Regions from separate parts of the Homo sapiens genome. Here region 1 is linked to region 2. Evidence: fine-mapped expression QTL. Tissue or cell type: neutrophils. Region 2 holds a variant in brackets; the other region holds the start of a gene. All regions are shown on one strand. Distances are from middle to middle.

What was found. PIP is the estimated chance that this variant, and not a neighbour inherited with it, causes the effect.
Region 1: it holds the start of HEBP1, and the variant in region 2 is fine-mapped to the expression of HEBP1 in neutrophils (CEDAR, PIP 0.95).

The regions. Positions count from the first base shown.
Region 1 is chr12:12,998,666-13,001,350 of GRCh38, reverse strand. It overlaps HEBP1 (heme binding protein 1), which reads left to right and starts at 1,086. Exons shown (of 4, transcript NM_015987.5): 1 at 1,086-1,314. The coding sequence starts at 1,237. All of the region lies in intron 2 of GPRC5D-AS1 (GPRC5D and HEBP1 antisense RNA 1), which reads right to left. It also overlaps the pseudogene HTR7P1. RefSeq lists silencers at 1-141, 902-1,021, 1,072-1,221.
Region 2 is chr12:12,970,926-12,973,610 of GRCh38, reverse strand. The region is part of intron 1 of GPRC5D-AS1 (GPRC5D and HEBP1 antisense RNA 1); the gene reads right to left. It overlaps LOC124903100 (small nucleolar RNA SNORD88), which reads right to left and starts at 1,558; the gene lies at 1,468-1,558. The variant TG/G (reference allele first, on the strand shown) is at 1,606.

The sequences.
Region 1 (2,685 bases), 28 kb before region 2:
CAGCGCCAGGCTCGGCCTCGGGGCCCCGCCTGTCCCAGATCCCCGGCCGCTGCGTGAAACGCGAGAGCGCTGCCGAGCGGGGACTCCCTGAGGGAGGGACCTCGGACCCCGACGGACGCCCGGGACGCGCGGGCTCTCGGGCGCTCCGGCGGGGCTCGGCCCGCGGCTCCACAGCCCGCTGCACCCGCGCGGCTCGGAGCAATGGAGGATCAGGCAGCGGCAGAAGCTTCCGTTTCCTCCTTTTTAAATGGCTCCAAAATATTTCTTGTCGGTGGTGTGGAGTAGAGATTTATTGGTAAAATACTTGACAGAAAGCAGGCACTCAGCTGAGTAAATGGTGACAAAATTGGTGAGAAGATTTTTGAACAGGAGTGAACGAGAAAAGCCATGCTTAGAAAAGTCACCTGGAAACTGTGATTTAGAGGGATGGTAGGAAAGAGTGGCAGCAGGAAAGTGGTTTGGATGCTCTTTCAATGGTCTAGAAGAGGTCATGGGGCGGGGGTAGAGGGACAGCTACCAAGACAGGGAGCCTGGCCGCCGCTGTACCAGCGGGATCGAGCCTTCGGGTAGAGGACCGGAGAAGCGTGAGCAACCCGGGGCTCGGAGGTTGGAGCCCAGGCACCTGAGAGAGGACGTTCCCCACCACCGCTGCCTAAAGCCACTCCAGGCGAGAATCGCTTTCCAGGGCCCCAGCGGATAGGTTAGACTCAGAATAAGAGAAGGGGTCTGCGGAGGGGGACGGCCTGAGGCCCGCGGCCGGGTTCCCTCCCCAGACACCCGCGGAAAGCCCGAAAGGAGGCGGAACACGGCCCAGCGGCTCGCCACGGCGGGCCCATCCCTTGCTTAGCCGCCTCGCACCCTCGCCTCACCGCACTGCTGCACTGCTGCACTGCTGCCCTGCTGCCCGCCCTTCGCATCACTGACCCGCCCTCTCTCCGCCCCCTCGCCTCGCCGCCCCGCCCTCTCTCTCCGCCCCTTCACCTCGCCGTCCCGCCCCCTTGCCTCACCGCCGGGCTGAATTGCCGCCCCGCCCTCTAGCCACGCCCTCTGGCCCCTGCCTCTAGCCCCGCCTCTCGCCTCGCCGCCTCGCCGTCCCGCCGCCTTGCCGCCCTGCCACCCTGCCGCCCTGCCGCCCTGCCGCCCTGCCGCCCTGCCGCCGGTGGTCGCTGCCCGTGGTGCTCCGTCGCCCCCGCCACCTCACGTCCTCCCGTGCGTCGGGAGCGTCTCGGCTACAACATGTTGGGCATGATCAAGAACTCGCTGTTCGGAAGCGTAGAGACGTGGCCTTGGCAGGTCCTAAGCAAAGGGGACAAGGTAGGCCCGCAGGGCTGCCGAGGACCTGAAGGATTGCTGCCTCCCACCCCCACCCTCGTCGGGGCTGCAGCGGGTGCTGAGGGGCAGGTGGGGCAGGAATGTGCTATCGAAGGTGCGTTCTGGTGTCTGTCGCGAGTGCGGCTCTCCACCGCCCAGCATTTGGACTGGGAAGGAAAGGAGTGAGAGGTCCCCCTGCAGCCGGTGGTGAGAGGAGGGGGGTAAACAGGAGAGACTGATCCAAGGAGAGAATCCCAACTTGGGGAGTTGGGCACTGCCTGTTGAATGCATTCTTTCGTTTAAAATATTCCAAACATTCCGAACAGTTTGATTTGTTGAGAGACACTCGGTTGCAGAAATGAGTGTCGCAAGAAACTCCCAAGTACTAGAGAACTGCGGATAGTAGCCCCCTTTATCCGCGATTTCAGTTACCTGTGGTCAGCTCTTGTCCATAACTATTAAATGGAAAATTCCAGAAATACAGAAGTCCTAAGTTTTAAGTTTCCGGCCATTCTGCGTAGCAGGATGAAATCTTGATTCCTGGGACCGGAATGCCCCTTTGTCCAAGGTCAGCCTCCTATCTCTAGTAGCCGCCCTTAGTCACTTAGTAGCTAGCTTGGTGATCGGATCGACCGTGGCGGTATTGAAGTAACCCTTATTTTACTTAGTAATGGCCCCAAAGTGCAAGCTTAGCAATGCTGGCATATTGTTATAATTGCTGTTATTTTATTATTGTTGTTCATCTCTTACTGTGCCTAATTGATAAAGTTAAACTATATCATAGGTATGTATGTATAGGAAAAAACGTAGTAGATACAGGGTTCAGTTTTGTCCACCGTTTCAGGTATCCACTGGGGGGCTTGGAAGGTATCTACTATAGATAAGGGGGACTACTGTGTAAAAGAACAAGATCTGTGCAGAATAGATATAAATGCGCTACGCAGGGAGCACAGAGGCAGTCAATTCTGCCAGGGGGCTATGATGGGGACCTCAGTGGAGTGTCCTGAGCTGGGGCCTCAGGGATGTGTAGGAGTGCACACAACAGAGAAGAGCATGCACAAAGGCCCAGAGCTGTACCATTGCTTTTGGCCAGTTAGATCCTCTGGAGTTGGGTACCTAGAATACAGAATGAGTGAGAAGAGCATAATTGCTGTCTTCCCCCAAATTTATATCAGTGCTAACATGGGCTAACTGGACTGCACCCCTGAAAACAAGGAGAGTGCTGCTAGATTATAATCTCCTGGTGGACAGGTAGTTTAAACAGTGCAGCTGTATACAGAGCTCCCAATACGATGCCTCATTTGTGAAAGGACTGTATTGCCTGGGGGCCAAGTTCTGATACCTAGTACAATGATCTTCATATCACGAAAGCCC
Region 2 (2,685 bases):
GACAGTTTGGAGCAAGAGAAGAGGTTAACAGGACTTGGTGGCTGACTGGTGAATGAGATAAGGAAAAGGTTTGAAGAGGAGCAGAGCATTGCTCCAAACTATGCCACTGTGGCAAATTGGTTATTTTGAGCTGAAGGCAATGGAGAAATGGCAGATACAGGAAGTGCTGTCTGCCCTCCCCTTTTCTACCTAAAAGCAGTATGTAAATTTCCCCTGAGAAAGGTGCTCTCATTCTACTAGGAAGAGGAGAACATGCTTATCACCAGGGATGGGGAGTCAATGCCAAGATGAGTCTGTACAAACCTTATTAAAATTGCCCTTCTCTTCCATCAGTTTCCCCGATATGTTTCCTAGTCACTTTCCCATCCCCCTTCCAGCCCAAACCCCTTTTTCCTTTGTCATGTCTCCACAATGTATTGTTCTTTGTTAAAATGGTATATAATTCTCAAATCTAACTGCTTTAGAGTTTTCACTTTTTTCTGTGAAGTCCTCCATGCCACATAGAAATATTAACATCAGATAAAAATCTATATTTTTTCCTATTAATATTTTTTCCCTGTTAATCTGTCCGCAAAGGTTATTTAGGCCTGCAGAGCATCCAAGTGAGGCTATCTAGTGGACAGTTGAAAGTGTGGGTCTGATGCTACAAATAGAAGCCTAACGTGGAGATGTGTTTGGACATCACAAATATCTAGATGGAGTAGGTGAATTATGAACTCTCCCAAGGAAAGGCCAGGAGTAAGAAGAGAAGAAAATCTAGGTAAGGACTCAGGAACCCTAATATTTACAGACAAGCAGAAGAAAAGAGCCGACAAATATTGTTTAAAAGTGGCTAGTTATATAGGAGAAATGCCAGAGAATAAAAAAGGAAGAAGGTAATCAGTGTGTATCAAACCACTACATCAGTAAGTGCTACTGACCCAAGTCCTAAATCATCTTGAAGCCATCTCTGCTGGTACCATCTTAGGATGTATCACCATCATTCTTGCCTGAAGTCCTGCAACAGCCTTCTAATTGGTCTCCACATTTCTGCTCCTGCCCCCTTGGACACATTTTCTACACAACTTCCAAATGGATCTTTGCTTTAAAATTCTTATTTTGCACTTAGACTAAAATTCAAACTCCATTTTATGACCTGCAAGGCGTTGTGTGATTTGGCCCCTTCTGACTACTTCTTTCTTTCCAATCTCTCCCTTAATACCCTTCTGCCACAGTGGACTTTGAACACACACAGCCCTTTTTTGCCCTAGAGCCCTTGCACTAGCTGTTTTGTCTGCCTAAAACCCTTTTCACTTCCTTTTCAAATGGCCAGGTTTTCTCATCCTACAGATCCTAACTACCTCCTCTTCAAAGAGGCCTTCAATGGCCCCTCTAGCTAAAATAGAGTCAGCCTCCCCTATAGTTCTCCATCATACCATTATATTTTTGCTTTTTTCATAATACAAACCACTGTATAATTATTTTCCTTTTTCTCTCAGATCCCCAGGTAGCCATGGTCTTGGGGAAAACTGTGTCCTCCGGAGTGATCAGAGCCCAGTGCTGGACATCATGGAATGTAATTTTTTAACTTATTCATTTCCTCTTTTTTTTTTTTTTTTTTTTTTT[TG/G]TCTCTCACACAAGACTGTAAGTTTGATAAGGAGGAGCCCCATACCTGCTTTGTTCTCCATTGTATGCCCAGCACCTAGCTCAGGGATCTATCATTTAAGAATGCATGAAACTGTAACAGAAAACCAACAGTAGCTTAAGCCAAGAAGGTTTTCTTTTCCCACATAGCAAGAAATCCAGAGACAGGTTCAGTACTCAATGCTGATGTCTCTGCACTTGCCTTTCTCTCTCCCTCAGGGCTGCAAGATGGCTGATGCAGCTCCTGCCATCTCATCCATGTTTAAGGCAGGAAATTAGGGAGATGAGGACAGGCTGTATCAGTTGCATCTGTCCCATTTTATGAAGAAACAGAAGCTTTCCCAAAAGTTTCCCCATCAGAGTTCTACTTTTATCTCATGGGCCAAAACTAACATACAGGGCCATCCATAGCTGCAAGAGAGAGTGTGTGTTGGGTTTTGTAGCCTCTATAGTGAGGAGCAGCAAGGAAGAAGAATATTTAGAATGGCTCTGAGGTAGCTGATCAACAGTGTCTTTTGCAAGGAGACTATGTAAAGATGCGTATACCTGAGGTCAAGAGTTTGGGAAGATGGGAAACAGCTGGAGAGATGGGTTGAGGCCAGATTGCAGAGGATCATAGTCTTCAATTCTATATTCTCACTTCTTTTTTTTTTTTTTTTTTTTTTTTTTTTCTTTTCTTGAGAGAATCTCACTGTGTTACCCAGGCTGGAGTGCAGTGGCGTGATCTCAGCTCACTGCAGCCTCTGTCTCCTGGGTTCAAGTGATTCTCCTGCCTCTGCCTCCTAAGTAGCTGGGATTACAGGTATGTGCCACCATGGCCAGCTAATTTTTGTATTTTTAGTAGAGACGGGGGTTTCACCATGTTGGCCAGGCTGGTCTCGAACTCCTGGCCTCAAGTGATCCACCCGCCTCAGCCTCCCAAAGTGCTGGAATTACAGGCATGAGCCACCACACCCGGCCTATTCTCACTTCTGAACCAAGCATATGAGCTAGTGCTCAGGAGCAGTAGCGGCCTCCCCTCATGATGTCTCCTGCTTCCCCCATCTCTCCTCTCTCCCACTT